Linked DNA regions of Homo sapiens. The protein of the gene in region 1 interacts with the protein of each later gene in a biochemical or structural test. Each region holds a gene or a part of one and is shown in the gene's direction. Other genes may lie near its edges. The genes, in order: CASP9, MAPK1, ARNT and ABL1.

Region 1 (7,853 bases):
CAGAGACCAGGTCTGCTCACGAAGCTCCTGCACCCAGAGTTTGTTCAGAGGCGGGTACAGCACACATGTTGTCTCAGCTCCTGTCTCTGTCCTGTGAGGCACTGCCCCAGGCCCCTTGCTGCTGGTGGGACTCAGGACACCAGGCCCACTGGGGGCTTGGCCCCTTACGTATTTGTCACTGTGATTAAGCCCTTACCCCTTACTGGGCCTCAGTTTCCTCATCTTTTAAGTTGAGGAGTTGGACAGATCACAGTTATAAGCTGGGGCCTGGAGTCCCCCTGTGGTCTGCACGGTGTTTTGAAAACTGGCAAATTTCACATAAAAATCAGGATTTCTAGTTTCTCTTGACAAACCGCAAAGGTCTGGCCTGACGAGGCCAGCATCTTCAGCCAGTAAAACTCCAGCCTGTGGCTGGGCAGGGCTTTCCCTTTGGTCCTTTCTCTCATAATATGGTCCCTAGAGCTCATGAAGAATGTGGACTCCCAGGCCCTACCCTGGACCTCTTCATTCCAAGTCCGCCCAGCAACAAGGTTTCCAGGTGATTTCCATGCCCTTGAGGTCTGAGCTGAACTGATTTAAAGCAGCCACTCTCAGCGTTGAGCTGCCTCAGTCAGAGGGGCCTGGAGGACCATACTGCTGATTAGGAGGTCTGGGTGGGGCCCAGGAATCACATTTCTTACAAGTTCCCAAGCGATATTGATGCCGCTGCTGCAGGGGCCAAACTTTGAGAACCACTGGTCTAGAGGCCGCAGCCAGCACTCTCCAGGCACACTGGCCCCTAGAGGCACATGAGTTTGACATGCAACCCCTTGCTGTCAAGGTGTCTTTCCAGATGCTGACCAGGGTCTTTCCAGAACCAACCTGCTCTGTCTCAATCAGCCTCGTGCCCCTGGCTTTGACCTTCCAAATCCTTGGCTCCCACAAAACCTCTGAACAGGCTGTTGGATTCCTACTCCAACTTCTTGGTTTTGTAACCAGGGTTCTTGGTCTTCTAGGCCAGCCACCTGCAGTTCCCAGGGGCTGTCTACGGCACAGATGGATGCCCTGTGTCGGTCGAGAAGATTGTGAACATCTTCAATGGGACCAGCTGCCCCAGCCTGGGAGGGAAGCCCAAGCTCTTTTTCATCCAGGCCTGTGGTGGGGGTAAGCAGCTCCTCAGCCTCCCTCTGGGTGGGTCTGGTGGGGAGGGAGCCGCCACCTGCTTCTTTCTCCAGCCTGCCCCTCACAGGGCCCATGAGGTCTCTCCAGGCAGTCAGAGGGTACCACACATGGTCCCTTTTTGGCAGCACCTCTGTCTGGCTGGAGCAGGCCCTGCTCTGTCTGCTTTGTAGAGGTCAGAGTCTTCTGTTTCATGGCACAGTGGCATCATGGGCTCAAGTAACTTTGGCAGCTTCAATTCCAAAGACTTGGCAAAAAGAAAGCAGAAGAGAGAGGAGAAACCTCTTTTTATTTTTCTTGTCACCATTCTCCTGACCTCCATCAACTAGACCCCGTTTCCACTATCCCAGAGAAAGGGTGGCCACAGCTAAACTGCATGGAGAAACCAAAGAATTTAAATATTGGAATTTTCAAAAGTGTAGTTGTGGGGGTTCGAGGAACATTTAAAGATTACTTGGGCTGGGTGCAGTGTCTCATGCCCAACACTTTGGGAGGCCGAGGCAGGAGGATTGCTTGAGCCAGGAGTTCGAGACCAGCCTGGGCAACACAGCGAGACCCTGTCTCTATTTTTGTTTTGTTTTTTAAATGTATTACTTGGATTCTTTGTAGTTTTGCTGTATGCTCTAATTTTAAACTTAACTCCTATTACAGTGTTATCTGATTTTCTTATAAAAAAAGAGGGAAGAGAGACAAACATGGGGTTCCTAGTTTGTGGGTCATGACAGGAATATCAGGGAGCGCTAGAAATTCTGTCCCAGGGAGTCCCCTCTGCCCTAGGCTCTCCACGGACTGGAACATTCAGAAGGTATATCAGTTCCTTGCCTCCAGCCTGATCTGCCAGAGAAGTGAGCACTGTTATACCATAGCGCTGTCCAGCTCGTCCAGCTGTGACATGGGCACCTGTGGTCTATTTCTCCTGTGCACATCCAACTGCCCCATCCCTATTCCACGTTGGTGGAGTTGGGTGGAGGCTACCTAGGAGAGCAGTCTCTGGTCACATCATTCATCCAGTAAGTGTTTATTGAGCACCATCTGTATATACCAGGCTGTGCGTTAGGTGCTGGGGATAGGGGAAAAACAGAGTTTCAGTCTCCTGGAATTTATAATTTGACATGAACTGTATTAAGTCACTGTCATGACCCATGCCCATAACTTGACCACAAGTGATTGAGAACACTTGATTAACCCTGGATGGGCTACTGACCTATCTATCACACAGCCCTGGGCCAGTTCATCTCTAGACAGCTCAGCAAATGGGGAAAATAACAGAACCCACTCCCAAGCTCAGGTGATCCTCCCACCTCAGCCTCCTGAGTAGCTGGGGCTACAGGTGCACACTACCATGCCCAGCTAATTTTTCTATTTTTTTTTTGTAGAGACAGGGTTTTGCCATGTTGCCCAGGCTGGTCTTGAACTCCTGGGTTCAAGCAATCTGCTCACTTCGGCCTCCCAAAGTGCTGGGATTACAGGCGTGAGCCACTGTGCCCAGGCAACTTTAATAATATTTAATGCACTAATTGGTGTGTGTACAGTGATTGGTTCATTTTAATAACTGAAAACCCAGCCTGCCCCCCGCTCCCACCCCGGAGGACCCAGTGTCACATAAGAGTCCCCCACCCCGCTGTCGCCAGCAGAGTTCCCTCAGGACAACAGTAACAGGAAGTGAGGAAGGCTGCCACTCTCGGGGCTGTAGAAACCCTGCTCTGCCTCACCTCCTGTCTTATCCACAGTGTGTGGTCCAGCAATGCTCTTCCTTCGGAGCCTCCGGTCCCTCTTTCTCCTATGAATCAAATGAAAGACAGAAAGGGCAGGGGAATTAGGAATGCAGGCTGAGCAGGCATACCTACTTTCTGGACAGTTAGTCAGTCTTGTGCTCCTCCCATGCCCCATCCAGTCTCAGTCTCAACAGCAGGGAGGGCCTTTGTCACGTGAATATCTGCTGTCACTCTTAGGACTCAGTAGCAGGGCTTCCAAGGCCTTTGGTGACCTGGCCCCTGCCACTTCACCTTCCCCAGCCTGGCATGCTCCGAGTCCCCAGCACGGCCCAGCCTTCCCAGGATGTCCAGGCTCTTGCTTGCTCTTCTACCTGCTCCCCTGGCTAACTCTTTTTTTAAAATTCATTTTTACTTATTTTGTTTTAGAGATGGGGGTCTCACTATATTGCCCAGGCTAGTCTTGAACTGTTGGGTTCAAGTGATACTCCCACCTCCGCCTCCCAAAGTGCTGGGATAACAGGCATGAGCCACCGTGCCTGGCACCTGGCTGACTCTTAATCATCCATCCTTCTGGTTACAATTTATTGTCACTTCCCTAAACACCCCCTTTCTTGGCCAAAGTCAGGGTTAGCTGGCCTTTGTGCTCCTGCAGCCTCTGTCCCTCCCCTACCATAGCACTGTCTCATTGTATTGAGATGGGCTTATCCCCTGGTCAGCTCTGAGGGGAGGGCCAGGCCTACCCTGCAGCCAGGCCCCCAGCCTGGCACAGAGCCCACAGTCTGGTTGCGTCTCATGTGGATTCTAATTTGAATGTAAAGGAGAACCATACAAAAGCATCTGTGGTGGTTCACGCCTGTAATCCCAACAGTTTGGGAGGCCAAGGTGGGAGGATCTCTTGAGACGAGGAGTTTGAGACCAGTCTCTATCATAAAATTTAAAACATTAGCCAGGCCTGGTGGTGTGTGCCTATGGTCCCAGCTACTTGGGATGTTTAGGCAGGAAGATCGCTTGAGCCCTGGAGGTCGAGGCTACAGTGAGCCATGTTTACACTATTGCACTCCGGCCTGAGTGACAGAGCCAGTCTGTCACCTGTCTCTAAAAAAATAAAAAATAAAAAAAAAATATGAGCCAAATTTGGCATAATGTAGATTTCCATCATTAAAACAAAACTCACAGAAAACAGCAAGATTTCAAAGCCAGCATGCAGTGATTAAGATATCCCTTTGGAGTCGGGTCCTTGCTTTGCCTCCGCAGGCTGCGTGACCTGGTGCTTAACGCAGTTACCACATGGTGGCGCCACGTCAGCTGAGAGCAGAAATAGAAAGGTCCCCGTTCTTCACTAGTGCCTGGCGAGGGGTCTGTTTACATGCATCAGAACACCTGTCCTGGGTTTTGAGGACTCTTGTATTGCTATTTTATAACTCACTATAATACTTTAAAAATATTTAATTTAAAAATCATTTAATAATTAATTTAAATATAATAATAAATAATTTAAAAATCATTTTTAAATAATAATTTTAAAACCCTCCAACATGTCATCCACCCATTCATTAGGAGGTAACAGCACCAGGGCTGAAAAATGTGCATTAAAGTCGATAACTTTGGTGTGCAACGTCAGCGTGATAGGCAACCAAGTAGCCACCTCTCTGAGGCTGAGCCGTCAATTTTGGGGTGACCCCTCTTTGGGATTTGAGAGATCGGGCTGAGAAGACAGAAAGCAATGACAATATGCTGCAGTGGTCGTGGATTTTCTGTGCGGAGGGAACATCTCCTCCTACTGTATATTTATTCTTGTGGGGAATGAGTCCTGCCCTACGGGGAGTTTTGCATTAATGAGGCTCTCTAAGAACCGAGGCTCTCCAAGAACCAAGCCATGCATACAGTGCAGAACACCCTAGGCAAGGCCTTCACATCAGATTTGTGGGCTGAGGCTGACACGTGAACGGAGCTGCCTTAGCGCCCCGCCTGACCCCCTCTTTCCTTTCCCCCACACCCCCTGCTCTGATCTGCTGTCTCTTCTCAGCCTCTCTGCTCACCCTGTCTCTTCTGGCCATTCTTAACGGCATCCCCCACTTAGGCATCCCTCCGCCCCCACAGGCTGCCAGGCAGACCCAGCACCATCACATTCACGCCTCAGGCCTCCTTGCTGTGCTGTTTCACGTCATTCCCAGACACCTGGGGCAGATTCCGGAGTCTCTACCAAGAAAACAACCAGAAGCAATGAACCACAAAATCTGGAGAAAAACATGGCTGTCACAGATCAAAGAGGCCCCCCTTTGGAGGCTGGGGGCCTCCGTGAGAAGCAGTGGGATAGTTGAGAGGCAAAAAACATGGGGCAGAATTCCGCGCCCCTCATATCAGCTGGGAGAATGCCAATGACCAGTGGTTTCTGAGCTTTAGCTGTGTGGGGTAAGAGGTCAATAGATTTTGGTGTTACTATTATGGGGTTGCCAGAGCCACCTCTGTTCCTGCCAGATGGGCCCCCAGCTCCTCTGGGTGAACTGTGACTTCCCTCAGTCACATAGATCCAGCCATGCAAACCTGCCTGCGTTGCGGCCACAGCACTTGCTGTCTCTCTCACCAGGACCGTTCTCCCTGATGGCATCAGGGCCTGGATCACAGTCACATTCTCCAGGAGTGTTTTTGCAGGGGACCCTCTGGATCACTCCTACTCCAACTTCAGCCTATTTTTAAAAAAATTTCTCTTTTTTTTTCTGCAGTATGTATACATAGTTAAATATATATTTATATTTTTTAACCAAAGCTCTTGTTAGATGCCTTCTTTCCTGAGTAGCCCTCTGTGCTCCGCCTTACCCCACCCACCATGAGCCCTACTGCAGAAGACCTCATCCCGGAAGACCTCCGTCAGTGTCTCCACTTCAGTAGCTCTGTAGCTGAGCCATGTGGGGCACAAGTCCTGCCAGGACCTCTCTGTTTTCCAAGCTTGGCACTGCCTTTGGGGAGTCTAGATTTTAAAATGGAAAAGACAAAAAATATGGCAACCTAAAAAAGAAAATAATTCAGAATGTTATAAGCTAATACAGCCATCTCATTTTTGCATCTTCCTTTTGGATTCCAGCCCATGAGCACAGTCTGCTTTTCTCAGCTAACGTTATCCCTTAAGCAGTTCCCCAGATCTCCATGGCCTTCATCATCACTAGCTCAAATGGCTTTATAATGGGCCATTTTCATGACATGCACTAATTTACTAAACCATTTTCCTAATGTCGGCCATTTAGGTGATATCTAATTTTTGGCTCACACAACCACAGGTGTCTTCATATAGAAAGCTTTTGACTGCATTTGAATTATTTTCTTAGGAAATTACTGGATTAGAAGGTGTAAACATCTCCATGGATTTCATTATCCATGACTTGGTGTCTATTTGGTATTTTTCTGATGGCTTCTTTGATTCTAGAAAAGGATTTGCCATAGTGCAAGAAGTACAAATGATAACACTAGGACAAAATAGAGAGGGAACACAAGGAGAGAAGAAAAGTAAAAGTTTGGATTCCAAAAATACATCCTAGGATGTCCTGCAGCTTTCTACAGTTCTCTAATGTACAAGTGAATTAAAAATTTAAGGTATACAACGACTGATTTTAGAGATAAAATCACTTTGCAGATGTAAAGAAACATGGAAAAATCCCAGCCATTGGTAATAGTAGACTCAAAAATGAGGTAGGTCAAAGTCCCAGTCAGCCTCTGTCTGGGGGGAAACCCCTTAACTTATCTCAGTCTCAGTTGCCTAATTACATAAAATGGAATACTGATAGCTACTTGCTAGAGGTGGCCTGCGCATTTTTTACGCTTTCCAGCCGCCATTGGAAATAAGATCATTGGCCAGGGGCGGTGGCTCACGCCTGTCATCCCAGCACTTTGGGAGGCTGAGGCGGGCAGATCACGAGGTCAGGAGATCAAGACCATCCTGGCTAACACAGTGAAGCCCCATCTCTACAAATAATTAGCCAGGTGTGGTGGCACACGCCTGTAGTCCCAGCTACTTGGGAGGCTGAGACAGGAGAATCGCTTGAACCCAGGAGGCGAAGCTTGCAGTGAGCCATCGCGCCACTGCATTCCAGCCTGGATGACAGAGCGAGACTCTGTCTCAAAAAAAAAAAAAAAAAAAAAAAAAGATCACTTTCAAGATCCATGGAATCTGGTGTTCTATAGTTCTATATCTGGTATTTGCAAGACAGAAGTCAGGAATAGAGACTCCAGACACATTTCTTCCCTTGGTTGTCTTAAAGGGGACACTGTGATCTTGACAGCCTGAGTAAAGGGTTTGAGTGAGTGCCTATGATATAGTGGACAGTTTCCTCAACTATATTTCTAAAAAAAGACAAGTTTTATGTCTTTTTAAAAATTGTGGCAAAATACATATAACATAAAATTTACTATCTTAACCATTTTTTTGGGGTGATTGCTTGAGCTCAGGAGTTTGAGGCTGGAGCGAGTTAAGATCATGCCACTTCAATCTGGGCAACAGAGCAAAAGTGTGTCTCTTAAAAAAAAAAATGCCTGTAATCCCAGCACTTTGGGAGGCCAAGGCAGGCAGATTGCTTGAGCCCAGGAGTTTGAGACCAGCCCGGGCAACATGGCAAGATCCTGTCTCTACAAAAAATACAAAAATTAACTGGGTGTGGTGGCACCTGTAGTCCCAGCTACTTGAGAGGCTGAGGTGGGGGATCACTTGAGCCTGGCAGGTCAAGGCTGCAGTGAGCTGTGATTGCACCACTGCACTCCAGCCTGGGTGACAGAATGAGACTCTCTCAAAAAACAAAAACAAAAACAAAAAACAATCCCCCAAAACAAAACAAAAAACCACTGCCCTCTCCCCACTGAATGGTCCTGCCACCCTTTTCAAAATTCATTTGACCACGCATGTGAGGGTGTATGTCTGGGCTCTATTCAATGACATTGACCTATGTCTGTCTTTATGCCAGTACCATACTGTTTTGATTACTGTAGCTTTGT
Region 2 (7,853 bases), on another chromosome or scaffold:
TGAGGAGTTTTGTATTGACAGAAATAGTAACAGGGACCCTTGTGGGAAGAGTGGTAAAAAGACTTTTAATCATGGCAAGTCTGAGTGGAATCAAAGGATTATGAGACCTTAAAGGGTAAGAGACCAAGAGAGGTGGGATTTGGATTTGGAGGGATTTCTGAGATAGAACAAGGCTTGCTGGTTGATTGGCTATGGGCGGTTGTTCATTCTGAGGCCTCTAGGTTGGGAGCCTGGGAGATGGTGGTGCCATTATCCAAGTAAAGGAATACTGTTAGAGCAGATTTGTCAGGGGGAAATAGTTCTGGTTTGAACTTAAGTTTGTAATGCCTGTAGGCCATTCAGGCTATATCCAGAAACCATCTTAAAATTTGTAAGAGGGGAGCAGGAGCTGGAGATGAAAATTTGTGTAAATGGTAGTTAAAATCTTGAGTGGATGAGCACAGATTCTTATCTGGGTCATTGGTTAGGTGAAATTGCAATCATGGCCAGGCGCGGTGGCTCACGCCTATAATCCCAGCACTTTGGGAGGCCCAGGTGGGCGGATCACGAGGTTAGGAGATCGAGACCATCCTGGCTAACATGGTGAAACCCTATCTCTACTAAAAATACAAAAAAAAAAAGTAGCCGGCCGTGGCGGTGTGCGCCTGTAGTCTCAGCTGCTGGGGAGGCTGAGGCAGGAGAATGGTGTGAACCCGGGAGGCAGAGCTTGCAGTGAGCCAAGATCGCGCCACTGTACTCCAGCCTGGGTGACAGAGCAAGACTGGGTCTCAAAAAAAAAAAAAAAAGAAATTGTAATTATATGTTTTCTATATTTATCTTTTTGGTTAAAAAATACATAGCATTTGATAGATTTTCAAATGAGTCCATTATCCTGGAAACATTAAGAACCACTGAAGTAGAACAGAGGACCAACCAGGTAACTCTGGCAAAGAAGAGGAAACTGATGACTGGTCAGATGTATAAGGGAACAGTGTAGACGGGGAGGAGGGAGAGGAGGAGAGATTGAAACACTCTTAGTATGCTTGGTCATCTTAGACTAAGATAGCAAGTGTCTATTTTGGTTTAATTGAGTTTGAAATGCTGTTTCTGAATGCGACAAGAGAGCTCATGGGGTCATCTTCATAGAGATATTAATTGAAGCCTTAAGAGTGGATAAGACATCTGAGAACTAAGCCAAAGGAGTGCCTGCCTTTACTGTGTCAATAAAGGTCAAGTTATGGAAGAGGACAGAGGAAATGTGGCCAGAGAGACCAAAGAACTGGGAGTGCACGTTATCAAAGGAGCCAAGGGAGATGGTACTCATTAAGGGATTGGTATTGAGTACTATAGGAGGGAAACAGAATGCAGCTGACAAGCCATTATATTTGTTGACTTTCAGCTCTTTTTTTTTTTGAGACAGAGTCTTGTTCTGTCGCCCAGGCTGGAGTGCAGTTGCACAATCTCGGCTCACTGCAACCTCCGCCTCCTGGGTTCAAGTGATTCTCTTGCCTCAGCCTCCCGAGTAGCTAGGATTACAGGTGTGTGCCACCACACCCGGCTAATTTTTTTATTTTTAGTAGAGACGGGGTATTGCCATGTTGGCCAGGCTGGTCTCAAACTCCTGACCTCAGGTGATCCCCCTGCTTCAGCCTCCCAAAGTGCTAGGATTACAGTGTGAACCACTGTGCCTGGCCTCTTTTTTTTTTTTTTTAAAGCGGGGATGTTCAACTTGGGAAAGCTGAATGAATAAAAGAAAAAAGAGGGGGATGGTTTCAACTAAAATTTCATTGTGATCACATTCCTGATGGTACAATGTCCTCCTGTCTTGTTAAGGTTATTGTGATTATAGCAGACTAGTAGAACTACCACTTTTTCAGCACTCTTGTTTTGTATTTTACATACATTAATGCTAAGCCATATAACTGTACAGCAAAAGTGGTAACTTCTGTTTGTTTTTTACCCCACAAGTGAAGAAACTTGAGGCACACAGAGGTTAGTTAACTTGCCCAATGACACACAGCTAGGAAGTGATGAAGCAACCCCAGTTTTTCTGGTTCCTAAGTAGTGCTCCACCAAAGATCAGAGTTGAGAAAATAGATTATTTCAGTAACAAGAAATATCTGTTGTCTGCTTTTGCTTGTATCACTTTTTAGCCTTTAAAACCTTTCATGTAGAGTTATTTACTCAGAAAATGTTTATTGAACTCTTCATCCAAATAATGGGATGGAATTGGGGAATAATACAGAGAAGATACCAGTGTTACCCAGGAGTTTGTGAAGTGCTGAGAGGAAGAGAAGAGCTGAGTGACTTGGGGCTGTCTTTCTTTGGCTTCCCAGACTTCTGAGCTAGGTGTTGATGTGTGAGTAGGAGTTTGCCTTGAGAAATGCCTTCTAGGCAAAGCGAAGTGTGCATGTAAAGGCACAGACCGTGAACACAGTGCATCAGGTCAGGAAAACCACAAATTACTTGGGAAGGCTGGAGTGTAGGGTGCCTTAGTAAGAAGGTGGGAGTTGAGACAGCTGGGGGTAGGCAGGGCCAAATCCTGAAGGGCATTATTTGGTAAGGACTTTGGACTTGATCTTGTGGGTGACGGAGTCATTAAAGGATGGCCCTGTTTCTGTCTGCCAGTTCCACTCCCACTTTATCTCTTATGCTTTCTGCCCATTTTGCCTACTTACTTACTTTTTTTTTGAGACAGAGTTTTGCTTGGAGGCTCACTGCAACCTTGCCTCCTGGGTTCAAGCAATTCTGCCTCAGCCTCCTGAGTGGCTGGGATTACAGGTGTGTGCTACCATGCCTGGCTAATTTTTGTATTTTTAGTAGAGACAGGATTTCGCCATGTTGTCCAGGCTGGTCTCAAACTCCTGACCTCAGGTGATCCACCTGCCTCGGCCTCCCAAAGTGCTGGGATTACAGGCGTGAGCCATTGCACCTGGCCGCATTGTGCCTACTTTATCTCGTGGTACTCAGTGGGGGTGATTTTACCTCCCTGCTACAGAGGCATTTGGAAATGTATAGGGGGGCGGCTTTTTGTTGTGTTGTCACGTTGATTAGGGGGTGTTATTGGCCGTCAGTAGGCATGTCAAGGGCAGACATGCTAAATGGTCTGGATTGCACGGTACACTCCCTCCACTGGAGAATCATCCTGCCAAGATGCCCATAGTACAGCACCCCAGCCTGCCCCAAGAAACATCAGGCTCTATTTAAGTCCCGCTTTTCTCTAAAGCTCATCTCTATGAACTTTGCCCTATTGCTTCCTGTTAATGCACTCTCTTCATGGATCTCTGCTGGGTGTTTGTACCACCTGTTTGAAAGGCAGGAACAGCAATAACATATATCATATATAAAAACTCTAGACCTGGAGACAGAGATATTGAGATTCTTAATTTTGCTTGCTCATTGTTTACTTAACTTTTTTAATCAAGAAGTCTCCTCTACACTTTTGGAGCTCAAAGATGCAAGGACAGCAGCTTACATGAGTAACAGAAGAATCTAGTGTTTCTGAGCAGAGTTTAGAGTAAAAGGATAAGTCAAAACAAAATTAATTTTTATATTAATAGCATCCCTAATGATGTATTCCTGGTAGTTAGCTATAACCATTACACCATTCCCATAATCTGATTTGTGTAAATTCAAGTTGACTTTTCCCCAAAACTGTATGTAATTTATTCCTCACCTTGCTCACAATTTATATACCTATTAATTGAAAAACACCTCATTCCCCAACAAACATCTAGAGCTCCTTGCCTCCGGCCTACTCCACCCACCCTCTTGCCTAATCCTGAGATGCTATTTTGCTCCCCTTTAGATTTGCTTTTTTTCTTTCACTTCTTGAGGCTCCCACACTGAAAGGTGCCTAGGAGCTCATCCAGTAGCTGCGCTGTCTCTGCTCCCTCTAGGAAAGGCCACCTGCCTGAGCTTTGAAATGGCCCACACCGTACCAGAAGGAAGAAGAGAGATTCCAGGAGGATTCAGACGTTACCCAGGCTTTCTGGAAACTGAGCAGAACCACAGGAGGAGAAAGCTATAGGCAGCTGAACAAAATTTATGTGTTTCTATTTCCCCTGCTATAACATGAAAGGACTGGGCTCTGTCTGTGGTTTTCAAATCTCCTCCTCTCTTAGGGGCTTCAGGCCTCACCCCAAATAGGGAAACTTCACATACAGCATTCTCTCCCCTAATCCCTGTTTTTTCTATTCTTTGCTCTTCTCTTATCTACCTCCTTCCCCTCCCGTTTCCCTTCTTCCTCTGCCCTTAGTCTTTTTTCTTTTTCTTAATTTCCTTTTAGTCATTATCATCTTCAGTTCACATAGGTAGTAACTATTAGGGTTAGCAGGGCAAGATCCCATTTGGAAAAAGGATTTGATTGCTTTGAAAATGATGTTGGGCAACCCACAGGATAGATGGTCTCCAAGGTCCCTCCCAGATTCTCAGACTCAAGGCAGGCCCTGGGGTTTGAACCTATGGCCAGTAGGAGCTGGATAGCAGGTGTCTGCATGGATAATATGCCATGATCAACTGACTAATGTTAGTTGCAAGCCTGCCTTGCTGGTTTAAGCTTCATTCTCATTCTTGTCTTTTTTTTTTTTTTTTTTTTTGAGACAGAGTCTCACTCTGTTGCCCAGGCTGGAGTGCAGTGGCGCGATCTTGGCTCACTGCAACCTCTGCCCCCAGGTTCAAGCAGTTCTCCTGTCTCAGCCTCCTGAGTAGCTAGGATTACAGGTGCCTGCCACTGTACCTGGCTAAGTTTTTTTTTTTTTTTGTAGTTTTTAGTAGAGATGGGCTTTCACCCTGTTGCCCAGGCTGGTCTTGAACTCCTGACCTCGTGATCCATTCGCCTCAGCCTCCCAGAGTGCTGGGATTACAGGTGTGAGCCACCGCGCCTGACCGTCATCCTTGTCTTTGAGGTATTATATTTTGCACTTTACACATAAGGGAACTGGGTGTCAGGTAACTCGTTCAGGGTTCACAGCCAGTAAGTATATTGCAGAACTGAGATGTAAATTGAGATTTATGCAGACCCCAAATCCTGTGACCTTTTTTCTTTTAACTACTATAGGCTTTTCTCTGTTATACCGAGTTACCTAGAAACGTACTTCCTACAGCCTGGGTTCCTGAATGGATTAGCCCTAAAGTATAAAATGATTATGCCATTGCAGACAGACCTGAAGAAGAGGCTAGAAAGGATTAGAGTTAAAGTAACTTTGTTTTTTGTTTTTGTTTTTTCTTTATCTCCAAAGGATCTGTCATCTAGCAACTTAATTTTTATCAGGAAGCAGTATTGATTTCTTCCCATTCCTTCTAGTTACCTCTACCAGTTTCTTGATTTTCATTCATTTAATATTATTAAACACGTACCGGATTATGTGCTAGGCAGTAGGAACAAAGTAGTGAACAAAAGTTGTTCTTACTCTTTGGTGTTTACAGTCCAACAGGGCAGTAATAACATTTACTGAGTATGGTGAGGTGTGGAGTGCCACTGGATGATATAAGATATTCTGAGTAGTCATGAAGGGTTTCCGGGAGGAAGTGGTGTTTAAGCTGGGACCTGAAGGAAGACTTAGAGCTAGCTGGGTAAAAGGTAGGGTAGAGTGCTGGAATGTTTTAGGCACTACTTTGTAGAGACTGCATTATAGAAAATGAAAAGTTTATGATTAAGATCTGGGGGCCTTTGTCATATTACTGCAAGGATAGAAAGTGCAGTTAAAGCTTTAGGTATAGTTGGAACCAGGAACTGGAAAATAGACCAACGTAGCTACCTCCCTCCCTCTTTACAGTTACAAAAGCTTCTTGTACCCTACATCTCTCAGCAGCTGGATTTTCCCCCCTCTTTTCTCTTTTGTCACTTCCCCATGCACTCAGCAGAGGAGAGCTGACCCTAGCTCCCTGAAGGTATGTGTCTTCAGGTTTTTTGATGACCAGAGGCTGAGAACACTCTGAATCCAATTCCAAGTGGAACAGAATGTGTAAAAACACTGTTAGGGAGATCATTCTGCACAGAACAGCTCACTCCACCTGGCCTTTCCAGCCTGGGAGAGTGTCTGCCTCTGGTCTAGTCAGCTGAGGCCCAAGGTGGGGTCATTTATTAAATAAAGCTGCATATCTCGGAATGTCTAAAGGGCAAGGTGGGAATTGTCAAAAGGGGTCTCATTGATTTCTGACTTGTTAGGTTAAAGTTCTTGGTACTGTTTTCCCTGTCATTCTCCAGGGAGTGTGTATCACTCTCCGGTTTTTACAGATGAGGAAAATGAAACAAAAGTTGGGTAACTTGCCAGTCACAAGTAAGGGGTCAAAGGATTGTCATGAGTATTAAATAAAACAGTATACTTGAAGTCCTGAGCACTTGGTACCTAGTTAATGCTCTGTTATTCCTTTGAAGTAAACAGGGTTGACAAGATGTGAATCCCCCTTTGTCTCGGTCTCTATGTAAAGCAGCATGTGCAGAAGTACAAATATTTGGCTTGGTGGTCAGATGACTTTACAATGGTATGGAAGTGATACACATGCAGTAGAAACCTTACTTCCGAGTACCCACGCAACTGTTCTGTTTTTCATTTTCAGTATAGTATTTCATACATCATATGAGTTACTCAACACTTTTATTATAAAATGGGCTTTGCGTTAGATGATTTTGCCCAACTGTAGGCTAATGTAAGTGCTCTGAACATGTTTAAGGTAGGCTAAGCTAAGCTGTGATGTTTGGTAAGTTAGGTGTATTAAATGTATTTTCAGCTAGGCTGGGTGCAGGACTCATGCCTATAATCCCAGGACTTTGGGAGACCGAGGCATGAGGATTCCTTGAGCTTAGGAGTTTGAGACCAATCTAGGCAACATAGTGAGGCCTTTTCTGTACTAAAGGTACTAAAAATTAAAAAAAAAAAAAATTAGCCAGGTGTGGTGGTACGTGCCTATAGTCCCAGCTACTTGGGAGCCTGGGGCTGAGGATCGCTTGAACCTGAGTGGTCAAGGCTACAGTGAGCCGTCGTCGTGTCACCGCATTCCCGCCTGGCAACAGAGCAAGAAACTTTCCCAAAAAAAACAAGCATTTCACCTTATGAGGTTTTCCATTTATGAAGGGTTTATTGGGATGTAAGTCCATAGTAAGTCAAGGAGCATCTTTATATAGTTAGAATAGGGACAGTCAAGTGTTTCATGCATAATCCAAATCTTCAGGAGGCAACATCAAGGTAACCCGAGTTTAGGGATATTCTGCAAAATAACTGGCCTGTAAACCTCAAAATTAAGTCAAGATCATGGAACCAAGAAAACACTGAGGAATTGTTCCACACTAAAGAAGTGTGCAGAAACATGGCAACTCCATGTGGTTCATGATTCTGAATCGGCATGATTGGCAAAACTAGAATGTCTGAAAATTAGATTGTAGTCGTGTATCTGTGTTAATGATTTTATTTTTATCTTCTTTTTTTTTTAACTCTTCTTTTTTTTGGTATTTTCTTTTTTGTTTTGGTTTGTCCTTCCTTTTTTTTGTTGTTTTTTGTTTTTTGTTACAAACCCTTGTGTCGATAGCTGACTGCTCTGCTGTATACGAAACCCTGACCCAGAAACAGGTTGTCTGTGAATGGTTTAGCACAGGTCCCCCGTGAATGTGCATTGTGTGACGGGCAAAAGTGTGGCCGCCTTTCTACTGTGCCAAGTTTTCCAGCATGAGAGGCTTTCCATATCTGGTCCTCAGATATGTGGTGTGAATGAAGGGGGGACCAGCTATCCGAGGCCAACCGAGGCTCCACAGTTGGCTGCCATGTCATTTTGCCTGGGCGGGATTCTGACTTAGAGGCCTTTGGTCATAATCTGACAGGTGAGCGTTGACGATTTTGATGGTAGCATTTTGTTTGTATGGGAGAATAGTCTAGTTT
Region 3 (7,853 bases), about 140 Mb from region 1:
TAGTCATGTCTAGGGCTATAGACTTGGTTATTATTTCGTAGTGGGGAAGAGTGAATATGGTTTCCCAGGAAGAAAGTATGGTATTAATAAAGAGGGCTTAAGATGAACTTTGGAAATGTCTACATTTAAGACTTGAACAAAGGAAAGGAAGTCTGAAACAGAAGAGGAAGCAAAAATTGGAGTACAGTCTCATAGAAGAAGGTAGGGAAAAATAAAATTTAAAGGATAAGATGGACGACATTGTCACATTCTGCAGAGAGGTTGAATAAAGTGATGAAGACCCAGGAAAAGGGACTTGAATTGGTAATTAGGAGGACATTAGTAACCTCATTAAAAATATATGTATGCTGTTCCTGGCAGAACAAAAACCAAACCAAACAGGAAAACAGTAGTTTAGAGTGAGAGTGAAGTGGGATTGAGAAATAATTGAAAGGTAAGAGGATAAAGCCAGTGAATATAACATTATTCTTAGTATAAGCTTGCTGCTGAAAAAGAGAGATGAGGTGGGTCAAACTGAGGGAAGATTTATCTAGAATTGAGAAAACTTGATCATTTTTATAGGCCTGAAGGGAAAGAGAGAAAGTGGGAATATTTGTCAAGCAAGATCCTAAAAAGAGACCAGAGAGGATGGAATTAAGAAGTCAATTATTGTTCATGGTAAGCCTTTTTTTTTTTGAGACAGGGTCTCTTGCTCTGTCGCTCAGGCTGGAGTGTGGTGGTATGATCTCGGCTCACTGCAACCTCTGCTTCCCAGGCTCAGGTGATCCTCCCACCTCAGCCTCCGGAGTAGCTGGGACTACAGGCGTGTGCCACCACACCTGGCTAGTTTTGTTTTTGTTTTTGTTTTGTTTTGTTTTGTTTGTTTGTAAAGATGGAGTTTCGCCCCATTGCCTAGGCTGGTCTTGAACTCCTGGACTCAGTGACCCTCCCACTTTGACCTCCCAAAGTGCTGGGATTACCGGCGGGAGCCGCTGTGCCTAGCCCAAGCCTTTTTATTCTTCTTGAATCCTGAGATAGAGAGGAAGAGGTGGATAGTGACATAGAGAAAGTGAGGAAACATGTATTAGAAAAAACTTTCTTATCGATGAACTACATTTAGGGTGGAAACCTGTGGCTGTGGATCAGGTGTGAACCAGCAGTTGCTTACGGAGAGATGCATGTGGCCTGAAGTGTCTTACTTCTTCCTGTGAATAGAAATACTTGTTTTTTCAGAGTAAAATATTAACTTCTATTTCTTTTTCTTGCGCAGGAACTGAAACATTTGATCTTGGAGGCAGCAGATGGCTTTCTGTTTATTGTCTCATGTGAGACAGGCAGGGTGGTGTATGTGTCTGACTCCGTGACTCCTGTTTTGAACCAGCCACAGTCTGAATGGTTTGGCAGCACACTCTATGATCAGGTGCACCCAGATGATGTGGATAAACTTCGTGAGCAGCTTTCCACTTCAGAAAATGCCCTGACAGGTGAGAGTTATGTGTATGGGAAATGAATGAGAAGTCCTTTCTTGTTTTTTTCCTGAGACTTAAGAGATGTTTTAGCTGTTAAATTGGTTTGTTGACTCTGGCAAGGCTTCAAGAATTTTCTACTTTAATGAATATAGTCAGTTCTTTTTATCCATATGAGATTATCTACTTTGTGGCTCAGCCTTAGAAAATATTTCATTGGTGATAATATTTTACATTTATCTTAATATTGGTATAAATAGAACAGTAAAAGCCAAACCTACAATACTTTTTTTTTTCCGTTCTAAAAGAATTATCCATGTTTTTATCTCATTTGTATGGATAATTATCTGGTATTTTTTCTACCTCCTGGTGCTTGGCTTTGTGCTAGGTTCAATGATAACAGCTTTTTATTCTATAGATATGGTTATTGGTCAATGTATAAGGTGTTTTCTGTTGTTGTTGTTGTTGTTGTTTGTATCTGTACTGTTGTTCTTTTTTTCTCCCCTATTTTATTATGTTCAGTCTTTTGGCCAGAGTTTGGCTAGAGGAAACAAGTCATATCTATTCTTGAGCAACTCTAGAAAAAAATTTAAAGTGGAAGCAGATAAAAAAACTGGTAGTTAAAATGCAAGAAATTTCAATATACTCATATTAGTGTTGTTGATCTTTAGTTTTCCTCCTTTTTTCCCACCCAAAAAAGAGACAGGGTCTCTCTCTTGCCTAGGCTGGAGTACGGTGGCACATCATAGCTTACTGTAATCTTGAACTCTTCTGGGCTCAGTAATCTGCCTGCTTACAGCTTCTTGAGTAGCTAGGAGTAGTTCATGTCACCACACTTGACCAATTTTTAAATTTTTTGTAGAGACAGGTTCTGTCTGTTGCCCAGACTGGTCTCAAACTCCTGGCCTTCAGCATTCCTCCTCCCATCTTGGCTTCTCAAAGGGCTGGGATTATCGGCATGAGCCACCACACTTGACCAGTTTTCCCCTCCTTTATGTTTTTATGATTTCATTTTTCTAGTTCTTCCTTTTCCCCAAAAGTTGTTCTTCGTTTCTGTATAATAAAGAAGACAAACAGATCTATATGTTTCTATAACATATAAAATTACTTGGTTTTTTTCTTTTTAAAATTTTTTCTTTTTATTCTTTTTTTTTTTTTTGAGACAAGGTCTTGCTTTATTGCTGAGGCTAGAGTACAGTGACTCTTCACAGGCACAGTCATAGCACACTACAGCCTCAAACTCCTGCCCTCAAGCAGTCCTCCTGCCTCAGCCTCCTGATTAGCTGGGACTACAGAAAAGTACTTGTTTTTCAACCAATGACATTTACTCTGTATGTATGTCTGTATGTGTATACAGATAATCAGCTATGAGAATATAGCCTTGCCTCTTGTTTTCTACTACTACTTTCCACTCCTACTTTTCCTTGCACAATGTTATTTTCAATGCTGCCTTTGAACTTAAGAGTGAGATTCATTGATGATAATTGAAGTATTTTAGGCTTGAAAAAAAATTCATCTCCTGCTTGGTCAGTTCTGTTATAAGCAAGGAGATTAAGGGCATGAATAGGATGCTTACTTATCTTTGCCTTCAGTATCTCTCCCCCTCTTCCCCACACACAAAAATGCACTCCAGACTGCTCTTCACATCTTCCTTCAGGGCGTATCCTGGATCTAAAGACTGGAACAGTGAAAAAGGAAGGTCAGCAGTCTTCCATGAGAATGTGTATGGGCTCAAGGAGATCGTTTATTTGCCGAATGAGGTGAGTGTCAAGCTGAGGATTGTGATTTGGTATAGGAAGGATCAAGAGCTGAGAGTTTTATTTCTGTCAGAGTTAAGTTGGATTAGCTCCAGTGGATTAAATTTAACTCTCCATACCCAGATGGATTGTAACACAGAATAAAGTATTTGGAAAGGGAACTAACGTTTCTGAACTTGCCAGACACTATGATAGGTGCTTTATATCTGTCATCTTATTTTATCCTCACAATTGCCTTGTAGTGTAAGATTGATGGTTACCATTTTGCAGATGGAAAAACAGATATAAAGAAATGAACTTGGCCAGGTGCAGTGGCTCAAGGCTGTAATCCCAGCACTTTAGGAGGCTGAGGCGAGTGGATCACCTGAGGTCAGGAGTTTGAGACCAGCCTGGCCAACATGGTGAAACCCCATCTCTACTAAAAAAAAACAACAACAAAATTAGACGGGCGTGGTGGCGTGCGCCCATAATCCCAGCCACTTGGAGGCTGAGGCAGGACAATTGCTTGAACCCAGGAGGTGGAGGTTGCAGTGAGCCGAGATTGTGCCATTACACTCCAGCCTAGGCAAAAAGAGTGAAACTCTGTCTCAAAAAAAAAAAAAAGAAAAAGAAAAAGAAATGAATTTCCCACTGTTACATACTGTTTGATACAGGATTTTGTTTTAATTCATAGTAGTCTGACTACAAAACCTCTACTTTTTCCCTGTTACAACACAAGGCAATATCCATTTACTCAGACCATTTCTTCTTTTTTTTTTTGGTTAGAAATTTGAGACTTCCTATGTCTTTCAGTAGGTGTTTAGTGTTTATAAATTATATACTGTACGTTTTAGGATTCTGTAGAAAATATGGTGGTCCTTTCTATACAGGTACAAAAGGCATCTCAGGGTCACAAAGTTCAGGCTATATAATGGAAATTGACTACATTGTACTGAGAGGATAGTTGCTAGAAATTATGGGTAGGATATTAAAGGTTTGCTTGGAGAGGCACAAAATTGAACATTATGTGGTTTAGTGATTTATTTTTATTTTTATTTATTTATTTTTTTGAGACAGAGTCTTGCTCTGTTGCCCAGGCTGGAGTGCAGTGGCATGATCTTGGGTCATTACAACCTCTACCTCCTGGGTTCAAGCGATTCTCATGCCTCAGTTTCCTGAGTAGCTGGATTGCCACCACAGCTGGCTAATTTTTGTATTTTTAGTAAAACAGTGTTTCACCATGTTGGCCAGGCTGGCCTCAAACTCTTGACCTCAAGTGATTCGCCTGCGTCAGCCTCCCAAAGTGCTGAGATTACAGGCCTGAACCACTGCACCCAGCGTGTAATTTAGAGTAGCTTCTAGACCCAGACTGCTGGATTTTGTTTTAATCCATATTCTATGGATTTGAATTCTAGCTTTGATGCTATCTTCTGAAACCTTGGATGATTACATGACTACATTGTGCTTTGATTTCATCATCTCACATTGGCGATAATGTTAATACTGACTTTATAAAGTTGTTATGAAGATTAGATGAATTAATATATGTAAAGATATTTAGAACAGAGCATGACACATATTAACCCTATGTAAGTTTTATTTTTGTTTTAAAGGATAGGGAGAGGGAAAGTAGCATTGGCAGGAGTATCCCAATATGTGGACATGGCTAATGCAAAGACATAGGCAAGAGCAAGATAATAATGAACTGTAGCAATTACATTAAGTTGTGGTTAATGTAGAGCAGGAGTAAGCAAACCACAGCCCTTTATTTGTAAATAAAGTTTTATTGGAACATAGCCATGCCCATATTTTTACATATTATCTATGGCTATTTTCATGCTATAATGCTAGAGTTGACTAGTTGCAACAGACTTTCTGGCCCGCAAAGCTGAAAATATGTACTATCTGGTCCTTTACAGAAAAAGCTTGCCAACTCTTGATGTTGAGAATGTTTGCATATGAAGAACATATGGAACATTTTGACTTCAAATTCTAAAAGTTTTAGAAATACTAAACTTGACCTATCTTTATCCTTCATTATTAGTAGCATTACCAATTTTCTATGTCTGGTTGTATCCAGAGCATGTTATTCTGCTATTACTGTGGAAAGTTCTTTGATAGGGCAGTCTGATTGCTTTTAATCTCTTTATTCCTTGAAACAGGTGTGGCAGTAGCTCTGTGGACCCAGTTTCTGTGAATAGGCTGAGCTTTGTGAGGAACAGATGCAGGTGAGATCCTAAGTGGTGAAAACCAAAGGGATGGCCAAATACCTGCAGAGATCATCACATTTTTACCTGTCTTACTGTAGTCGTTCCTTCAGCAGCTCTCACTTGCATCCCTTACCTCCCACTTAACATCCCTTACCTCCCACTTACTTTTTTTCTGGCAATATTTTCCTAAACTTCTAAAACTTCTCTTGAAAATCCTGTTTAAGGAAGTCGCTATGCTATTTTACCTACTTTCCTCCTACTGCATACCTTTTGGTTACTTTACTTTGGCAAGGGTAAAAATGTGGCGGTCATTTTTGGGTGGGAAAGATGATTATCCTGTTTTCTAAACTCCTAAGAGCATAAACTTAAAAGTACTAAGGCAGCATTGCCCTTTGAGTTTTACGGGTAGATTTTTTTTTTTTTTTTCAAACTCCTGTAACTCTTCTAGGAATGGACTTGGCTCTGTAAAGGATGGGGAACCTCACTTCGTGGTGGTCCACTGCACAGGCTACATCAAGGCCTGGCCCCCAGCAGGTAAGAAAGTGAAATAGTAAATATTTCCCCTTGGTACAGTTGGTTCCTCACAGAGTCCATGAAAGCTAATATTTATTATATACCTGGTATATGAAATGTACTTTTGTGTAAGATGAAAGAAAATAGGAAAAGAAAATGTACAATCCTTCCCTTCCATTATTGAGCTTTTATTCCAGTTGAGGAGATAGATAACTCAGGCTGGAAAATGATTCAGTATTGGCTGTGTCACAGAATGTGGTTTTTATGTGAACAAATTTATACTGAACATATGTATTCTAAGCATTTGTTGCAAAGAAACTTAGACATTGAATGCAGTTAATTTGAGAAAGATTTCTAAAGTAGGAACAAGACTTTGAGAGAAAAGGGGAAAATGCCTTTATTGTAATAACTTATCAAGAGGATATTCTCTGCAAAGACTTTAAATCAAGCTTTGAGCAGATTAGCTTTACCAGAACTTGAGGTCAAACAAGGAATGTGAGAAAGGTGATTGGGTTGCAGGATCAAAGTTTTAAGTTGGCTTGTCAGAGTTTCCAAATCTTAGCAACTTTATTACTTCCCTGCTGCCTGGGTATTATTGGAAAGTAGGGGTTTTGGGGAGACAGAAACTAAGAGAAAAGAGAAGCAAGGTGATGTGTTTTGGAAAAAGGTTAAACTTTGGATGTGGAGAAACCTGGATGTGATTCCTGTCATTGTTACTTATTAGTGGCATCACCTAGGGTAAGTTGCTTGACCTTTATAAAGCTCAGTTTTCTCATCTGTAATTCAGAGTTAGTACATCCTGTATAGGGTTTTTGTGAGGATTAGATTTAATGTAAGGAAAGCATCCAGCCCAGTGCCTGGCATATGGCAGGTAACCCAATAAAAGTAATTAATGTAATTTAAAAAAATTTAACTGAAGTAGTAATGACATTTGAACTACTTAGTCTATATACTATATAAGCCACACAGTTAAAGTATGTGATCTTTCATACCTCTATGTAGCATCAAGGAATACTATTTTTCTGGATAAAAAGAGTATAACTATGCAAAAAACAGGGGAGAAATGCAGTCTTCTTCCCTTTCTGTGTAAAACATTGGTTTTTCTCTTTTCCAAGGGACATGAATAACTATTGATGGTTGGTATAACTTCATTTTGGGTTGCTTGCTAACTTTAAAAGTTACAGATTAGGCAAAGCATAAATTTTCTGCCTATAACATGGTCATAGAATGGATGTCTTCATATGTGCCATATTTGGCCAGCATAGTTTTTTAGAGTACTCTGGGTAGGACTTGTATTTTCCAGTTTACTATAATTAACATGGGTAAAATGTAGGAATTAATATATATGTAAATACTTAAAACAATGACTGGCATATATGGTAAGTTTTATATACTTGTTTATTCTTATTTATCATTCTCTATTGCTTTATGCTTAGCCTCTTCATAACTAGATGTATTTTGTTTTGTTTTGCTTTTTGGTTTTTTTTTTGAGAGGGAGTCTCACTCTGTCTGTCGCCCAGGCTGGAGTGCAGTAGTGCGATCTCGGCTCACTGCATCCTCCGCCTCCTGGGTTCAAGTGATTCTCTCACCTCAGCCTCCCAAGTAGCTGGGATTACAGGTGCATGCCACCATGCCTGGCTAATTTTTGTATTTTTAGTAGAGATGGGGTTTCACTGTGTCGGCCAGGCTGGTCCTCAAGTGATCCGCCCACCTTGGCTTCCCAAAGTGTTGGGATTACAGGCGTCAGCCACGGTGCCTGGCCCATAAATAGGTCTATTTTGAATCTTTACTTGTCTGAGTTTTGAAGGCATTTGAGTTGGAGGTCCCCGTTAAACCTTTTAACGTCACGTTTCTGAAGGTGTTTCCCTCCCAGATGATGACCCAGAGGCTGGCCAGGGAAGCAAGTTTTGCCTAGTGGCCATTGGCAGATTGCAGGCAAGTATGAATTT
Region 4 (7,853 bases), on another chromosome or scaffold:
CAAGCAACCCTCCCACCTCAGCCTCCCAAGTAGCTGGGGCTGCAGGCATATGCTACCTGACTAATTAAAATTTTTTTTTTTTTTTTGTAGAGACAGGGTCTCACTATTTTTACTAGTTTGCCCGGGCCAAGCCAGTGTTGAACTACTGGCCTCAAGTGATCCTCCCACCTTGGCCTCCCCAAAGTGCATCCCTACAGGCATGAGCCACTGCACTCAGCCTGAACTTTCGAAATTTATTTTAAGGGCCCACTTTTAAATGCTTCTTTTCAGCAGCTAACTTTCCAGCGGATGCTTCATGTGGTGCCAGCCATACAGATACGCTTTTAGAACTTGAGCTTTGGAGAAGCTTATGCTTGCTTTCTGCTCTCTCCTGAGGTCATCAGATACTTCCCTTGTTCAGTAACAAAGAAAGTGAGACTCTTTCTGTTACCTAATAAAAGGCCAGTCTGTCCATTTCATTTTGGGTGCTATTAACATTGTTGACCATTTACAATGTCACAGGCCCTGGCACTGAGCACATCATGTGCAGCCTCACTTAATTTTCACACCAGTGCCCTGAGGTTTCTAGAAAAGAGGAAGGGCCCCAGTTTAGGTGGCAGTACTTTTCAATTTGGAGGCAGGAGATCCCAGTTTTCCTCTGACCTCTCTGAGCTTCCGTGTTTTTACCTCTAAGACAGAGAGACCAATCTCTGTTCAGCCACCTTAGAGGATTGTTTTGAGGGTCTATAAGATGATTGAGGGAAAGCTCTGAAACTGGTAAGAGTTAAATGTATGTTTGTGTTATGTTGATACGAGATTCCTCTGAGATGCTCTTTAGTCCAGGCAGGTTTATGGCTCACACAGCGTTCCTAGGGTCTCATTCTTCTGCACAGGCAGGCAGCTCCCGAGCCAGCCAGTCTGGACCCAAATGCCACCTGTGCTCTTGGCTGGTCTTGCGCATTCACCGAGGCTCACTGTACCTTGGTGTTCCCATTTCTAAAATAAGGCCTGTAGTAATCCCTACCTCACTGAGTTGTTGAGAGACTTCATGTAAATTGTTTAGCAGGGAGCCTGGCACAGAACAAGAGCCTAGCAGAAAAGTAAGCTGTTGTTACTTTAAGCAAATATTTAGCAGCCTAAAATGGTGGCTTTACCAGTTTCTGTAATGGTTGAAGTGATGACAGAATTCAGCCAATCCCACCCATAGTTTTTCTTGCTAATAAAGCAGTTTGTTTCTAAGTGTGTTTTGATGCGTATAATTAATACTTCCTGTCCTTGATTTTTGGCTGAAAAATGTCTTCTCTTCCTCGCACCCTCTGTTATTCCCGTAGTGAATATTTTCATTGTGGAAGAGAAATTCCCATTGGCTCATGGTTGGCATTTTATTTCTCCTGTCCAGAGACAATATTTCCACAGCCTCAAACGTGAAAACTGAAAATCTGGTGCCACTTACCACCTTGTAAAATCAAGTCATTGTAATTGTGCCAGTATAATCATTGATCTGAAATAAAAGCAGAAAATAAATCAATGGGTAGCTTTCTTAAATACATAAGAACTAAAGATCAAATGGGATATTGGAAGACTTTAACTTTTCCTCCATAATGGTGGATCTTAATTAAACACACAGAAGAACAATTTATAAAATAAATTCATAGGTTTGTTTGTTCTTTTTTAGTGTCAATTTTTAAAACTATCTCTTTTTTAATTAAAAAAAATAGAGATGGGTCTCACTATGTCGCCCAGGCTGGTCTCAAACTCCTGGGCTCAAGCAATCCTCCCACCTCAGCCTCCCAAAGTGCTGGGATTACAGGCATGAGCCACTGCACCCAGCCTAAAACTGTCTCAAAAGTAGACAGCATAATGAACTCCCATGTACTTATGATGTGGCTTTAACAATTATCAGCTTATAGTCAGTCTTGTTTTCTTACATAATAAAGTTACAGTTTCAAAGCCATTAGGAAGAATAGCTTGCTAATTATAATTACTTAGTTTTGATAGTGTAACTTTGTCCTCAGATGGGTAGAATCGTTACTCTGGAACAGGGGTGTCCAATCTTGGCTTCCCTGGGCCACATTGGGAGAAAAATTGTCTTGGGCCACACGTAAAACATACTAACGATAGCTGATGAGCTAAACCAACAAAACAAATCCCACAAAAATCTCATTTCTTTTTTTTTTTGAGACAAGAGTCTCACTCTGTCGCCCAGACTGGAGTGCAGTTGCACGATCTCAGCTCACTGCAAGCTCCGCCTCCTGGGTTCACGCCATTCTCCTGCCTCAGCCTCCCTAGTAGAGGGTACTACAGGCGCCCGGGGGTTTCACCATGTTAGCCAGGATGGTCTCCATCTCCTGACCTCGTGATCCGCCCACCTCGGCCTCCCAAAGCCCTGGGATTACAGGCGTGAGCCACTGCACCGGGCCAAAAATCTTATAATGTTTTTAAGAAAGTTTGCAAATTTGTTAGGCCACATTCAAAGCCGTCCTGGGCCATATGCAGCCCGTGGGCCATGGGTTGAACAAGCTTGCTCTAGAAATTGGTTTTCAGGCCGGGCGCGGTGGCTGACGCCTGTAATCCCAGCACTTTGGGAGGCCGAGGCAGGTGGTCACCTGAGGTCAGGAGTTCGAGACCAGCCTGGCCAACATGCTGAAACCCTGTCTCTACTAAAAATATAAAAAATTAGCCAGGCGTAGTGGGGAGTGCCTGTAATCCCAGCTACTCAGGAGGCTAAGGCAGGAGAATTACTTGAACCTGGGAGGCAGAGGTTGCAGTGAGCCGCGATCTCACCATTGTACTCCAGCCTGGGCAACGAGCAAAAACTCCAGCTCAAAAAAAAAAGTTGGTTTTCAAATCCTTCTTTCTTTACCATGTTACACCATAAATATTTTTGTTATATTGCGTGTGTTGAGTACTGGTGATAGGGAAGACAGAGAGAAATAGGTGGGAAGGAGATAGAGAGAGAGAGAGGGAGGGAGGAAGGGGAGACATAAGGGGGAAATCTATAGAGACAGAGACTGAGAGACAAATACAAAAAGGTTGAGACAGGAAAGGGAAAAAAAAACAAGCTGGGAGGGAAGGAAGACTGAGAGAAGGGAGACAAAGAGGAATAGGATGGCCAGTGGGGCTGGGGTGGGTGGGTACAGAGAGAGAATGAGTGAGAGCAAGAGAAGCGCAGGAGACAGATGATGGACAGGCAGCTGATGTATGGATGGGTAGCTGGAGAGAGAGGCCATCAGTAACTTCACATCTCTCTGTTTCCATTTCCTGCCCTCAAATGCCTTCATAATAGAGTCTACGTAATAAGGTTATAGGGATTCAGTGCAGATGAAGTGCTGGCACTTGATACGGGATCAGTAAGTATTAGCTATTATTCTATCACATTAAGTTGCATAAACTTTAACCTCATTACTCTTAAATTCTCTATAGAAACCTAGTCTTTATCTGTCTTACAAGCCCTCAAATTTAGCTAATAGCGTTGTTCATTGAATACCTTAAAATTGTATTTAAAGACAGGCCGTGAATACAATTAGGCATTGCTTTTTGAAGCCAAAATACCATGAGGGTGGGGAGGGTCATGTTCATTTACCCAGATCAGCAATAAAAATACTAATGGCTAACAAGGCTTTCTGGGGAAATTGCCTGTCATTGGGTAGCCCAGTGCCTCTGGTGTCAGCTGACCCCGGAGTCCATGAAGACATGTTAAAAGAAGAGGAAATGTGAATGCTTTCAAACCAGCCATGGCTGGCAGCAGAAGGGGAGGCCTTTCAGTCTGTTGCAAATGGCCTGTGACAATAAAAATGCCTTTGTGGGTATTAGCAGGCTGACTGTGGACAGTCTGGATCTGCGGCCACTGCAGGGATTCCTGGAACCTGTTGGGAAGGTGTCCGGCGAGCTCACTGTGGTGTCTGTTAGGAATCTGGAGCAAATCCTATTTCTTTTGAAAGCACAGAGAACTGTGTTTTTACATTATACCTTTAGGATTTTGGCCATGGTTTATATTTCAGTCAAAACAAATCATTATGTTCCCTAGGCTTTTATATAGGTTTTCCTGGTCAGGTTGCATTTGTTTTTCAACTTTACTATCTGTCATTATTGCTGCTCTTATTACAGGTTAACAGATTATTAAACTGCACTTTTCAGTACCTTGTAGCTAAAGACAGACAAGTGCAGGGTGTTCCACATCTGAGTTCACCCAGCAGTGCTGTGTTGTTGCGTTGCACTGAGCAGGCACAGAAGGCTCTGAGATATGAGAGACTTGGTCTCTACCCCAGAGGAGTTTACATTGTTGTGGTGGCAGAAGAGAAGGCGTGGCATAAGAGAAGACGCGGTTGTTCTGTAGTGAGCATCCCAGTGTCAGGTGCCACAGTTGGCATCCATGCAGAAATTCTCTGCATGCAGGATTCATTGAGCCCTCCCGACAGCCCAACTAGGTTGATGCCATGCCGTTGTTGCCCTGTTGTGCAGTTGAGAAACTGAGGCTCAGAAACAAATGTCTTCAAGACATGCTGGTGCTGAGGTTTGAACAAGGCCTGTCCACCCAGAGCCCATGCTTTTTGTACTGCTGGGGACATGTGAACAGATTGCTTACTGGGTGATAGATGCAGGGTGGTGATAGAGACAGACACCAGGTACCCAAATGGGTTAAAGGAGAAGCATCCTGTTGTGGGCGAGGTGATGGGGAGGAGGAAGGACCGGTTAGAGAAGGTTTATGGGAGATGGGGAGGCCAGGAAGAGCAGAAGAGGCTGGGGAACGAACTCTAGGGAGAGTAAATGGCACTTGTCACAGTGCAGTCAGGAGAGGCAAGCAACAGGAGGCCTGGGGGATCTGAAAGGAGTTTGGAGAGGCTGGAATGGAAAGCAGGAGTAGAGGGCCAGATGCTCCCAGTCTCAACCCTGAAGAGCCTGGCATGCCTGCTTCAGGAGCTCAGACTTTTACTATAGTGGTGGAAGGAATAACAACCCCAGCCATTTTTTGAGGGCCTGTGCATGCCTAGGCCCTCAAAAACATGTCCCATGTTAGCTGCAAACTGCCAGCTACCCTGCAAAGCACATCATGATCCCAGCATTGCCCCCGATGACACTGCCAGTAAGTGGTAGCTGACCATTGGGAGACAGGGCCACCTCCCAAGCCCATGCTCTCTTCTGCCTCTCGGCTGGCAGCCATCTCTAAGGGATTTGAAGCAAGAGAGTGACCTGGTCAGGTCTGCATTTGAGAAAGATGGCCCTGATAGTAGGGAGTGGAGGTGGAATGGCCAAAGGGGGACCCAGCCAAGGGCGTGGTAGAGCATGGAAAGGACAGAAGTGATGAGAGATTGAGGAGGAAAAGTGCCAAGATGCAGGGTGGGAACTGACAGAGGATGACTTCCAGCCTCAGTCCTGATATGGGCGTCAATGGCAGGTGTTCAGAATGGCCTTGAAGATAGTGGCATCTCTATTTATGAGTGTCTTTGTACTCCATTTCCAGTAATTGGAGACTTTTTCACCGTAGATTCTTGGAAGGTGACACAATTTTTTTTTTTTCCTTTTTGGTTGAGGGAGGGGGACAGGGACTGTGTATCTTCAGAAAGGTTAATATTTGAGGCCAAGGCAGGCAGATCACTTGAGGTCAGGAGTTCAAGACCAGCCTGGCCAACATGGTGAAACCCCGTCTTTACTAAAGATATAAAAATTAGCTGGGCATGGTGGTAGGCGCCTGTAATCCTAGCTACTCAGGAGGTTGAGGCAGGAGACTCACTTGAACCCGGGAGGCGGAGGTTGAAGTGAGCCAAGATCGCGCCACCGCACTCCAGCCTGAATGACAAGAGTGAAACTCGGTTTCCCCACCAAACAAAAAAAGAAATACCTAGTTTCTACCAGAGACAGTCACAGGCACTGTACTTCTACTCTGGTTTGTTACCTGTGTTCTTAAAAAAATTAAATGCTACATTTTAGTAAGAGGTTAGTGAAATAAAATTTTAATTTTTCCCATCAGAGGACATGGAGCCCTTGAATTCTATCCCAGACTCCCAGGGTCTTCCAGGTTAACAAGTCCTGCACTAAGGAATTGGCTCAGTAAAACCTCAGCATTCTCACAGGAAGAGCCTAAAAAGGAGACTGGGATAAATTAGTGAGAGGTCCAAATTATGCAATTTTCTTTTAAAATAAATGCAGTTTTATTACTTTCCACTTGTAGCCATTATAGGCAGTAGATTAAATGAGTTTCTAGAGAAACCTCCTTTAAAAATAAAGTTATTTAATTAGTCCAAGGTTTAAATATTTCCCCTGGAATCTTTTACATGACAATGTCTTAGCCAGACAATTTTTAAGAAACAAAATTCTCCATCCTAACTCCTATCCCCATCAACAGTCCAAATCTTAACCTTTCTTTTTTTTTTTTTAGACAGAGTCGAGCTCTGTTGCCCAGGCTGGAGCGTGGTGATGCAATCTTGGCTCACTGCAACCTCCACCTTCCGGGTTCAAGCGAAACCCCTGCCTCAGCCTCCCGAGTAGCTGGGACTGCAGATGTGCACCACCACGCCCAGCTAATTGTTGTATTTTTAGTAGAGACGTGGTTTAGTAGAGACGACCTCCCAAAGTGCTGGGATTACAGGAGTGAGCCACCACACCTGGCCAGAAACCAGGTGTTTGATATCAGGTGACGGTTGTGATCATTGTTCGCACCACTACTTTGAAATGACATAGTTGCCACTGGACCTTGTTATTTAATGTGCGAATAAAGAGACAGTTATTTAAGGCATTAATAAGAGCTATATTACAAGTTTTTAAAAGTCTTTTGAGGACTGTTTCAAAAAGTCTTTTGAGGACTGTTCTCCTTTGCAATCCTCTGTAAATGCACCATTGCATTCCAACCCGGGCAACAAGAGCAAAACTCTATCTAAAAAAAAAAAAATTCATCCACAGGACAGCGCTGGCCTTCCGTTAGACTTTTGCTGTTGAGTCTGTAAGTTTTCAGCAGCTGTGTTTCTCCAAGGAGCGGGGCTACTGCTGGTTCTTTACGTCTTTCCCCCACTGCCCTGCCCCTCCCTGCACCCTAGCAGCTGACACAGTGTTTTGGGATTTGAAGATAACACAAAGGCTGTGTTCAGTTAAACGTATGTCTGTGTGTGTGTGTGTGTGTGTGTGTGTGCTTGTGTGTGTGTGTGTTTTAATAATTTTAACTTCTCTGGGTGAAGGTGTAAATTACAAAATAAAGGACCATGTAGAAATAGATAAAATGACTTTCATCAAGCTCAAAATGTGGGAAATAATACTTTTCCTCTAAGCTCATATTTTGAAAAGTTGTTTGAGACTGTTATAAAATAACTTGAGAATAGTCTGAGCATGATCTCATCCGCTGGAACGGAGTATGAAATAAAACACGAAGCCTCTTTTTAGAAGGATCTGTTTTATAGATTTTTAAATTACAGAGATTCCTTGAACTGGAGGATAATAGCGAAGGACCCACAAAGGAAATATGAATAAAGCAGCACAAGTTTAAATAATTGAATGTGAGCAAAATTAAAGGGAACGTTTGTCACGTCTGACATGCTCCATCCTCCTGTCCCCCCCACACTGAACCGTCTCCAAGAACCTTCCGGAGAGCCCACAGTGTGAACAGTAATGAATGCTCCATAGCTGGCCGCCTTGCACTCTAGTGGGAACTATGATGTTGGGCACAAGTGCCAGCAGGAAGGTGGGAAGCTTCCCGGGGATGTTTTTCCTGGAGGTCAAGTCCCCCCTTGGGCTGTGAAGTAGCCGGTACTGGGGTTCATGGGCATTTCCCTTCCCTGACTGTTCGCCAGCGTCTGGCACAGCACCAGCAGCCCCTGGAAGTCTAGGCCAGATATGCCATGTCCGAGAATCTTTTGTAAACATTTTTCATCAGTGACTCACAGCTT

What was found.
Region 2: of the proteins of CASP9 (region 1) and MAPK1, one has a biochemical effect on the other in vitro, tested with the Homo sapiens proteins (one study listed by BioGRID).
Region 3: the proteins of CASP9 (region 1) and ARNT form a complex in vitro, tested with the Homo sapiens proteins (one study listed by BioGRID).
Region 4: the proteins of CASP9 (region 1) and ABL1 form a complex in vitro, tested with the Homo sapiens proteins (one study listed by BioGRID).

Annotation. Positions count from the first base shown.
Region 1 is NC_000001.11:15,497,901-15,505,753, reverse strand, and holds part of CASP9 (caspase-9 isoform alpha precursor), read left to right. Parts: intron 1-995; coding exon 996-1,143; intron 1,144-7,853. UniProt on the Homo sapiens protein: Involved in the activation cascade of caspases responsible for apoptosis execution. Binding of caspase-9 to Apaf-1 leads to activation of the protease which then cleaves and activates effector caspases caspase-3 (CASP3) or caspase-7 (CASP7).
Region 2 is NC_000022.11:21,856,201-21,864,053, reverse strand, and holds part of MAPK1 (mitogen-activated protein kinase 1), read left to right. Parts: intron 1-7,853. UniProt on the Homo sapiens protein: Serine/threonine kinase which acts as an essential component of the MAP kinase signal transduction pathway. MAPK1/ERK2 and MAPK3/ERK1 are the 2 MAPKs which play an important role in the MAPK/ERK cascade.
Region 3 is NC_000001.11:150,829,890-150,837,742, reverse strand, and holds part of ARNT (aryl hydrocarbon receptor nuclear translocator), read left to right. Parts: intron 1-1,249; coding exon 1,250-1,463; intron 1,464-3,102; coding exon 3,103-3,205; intron 3,206-5,343; coding exon 5,344-5,409; intron 5,410-5,839; coding exon 5,840-5,925; intron 5,926-7,762; coding exon 7,763-7,839; intron 7,840-7,853. UniProt on the Homo sapiens protein: Required for activity of the AHR. Upon ligand binding, AHR translocates into the nucleus, where it heterodimerizes with ARNT and induces transcription by binding to xenobiotic response elements (XRE).
Region 4 is NC_000009.12:130,839,008-130,846,860, forward strand, and holds part of ABL1 (tyrosine-protein kinase ABL1), read left to right. Parts: intron 1-7,853. UniProt on the Homo sapiens protein: Non-receptor tyrosine-protein kinase that plays a role in many key processes linked to cell growth and survival such as cytoskeleton remodeling in response to extracellular stimuli, cell motility and adhesion, receptor endocytosis, autophagy, DNA damage response and apoptosis.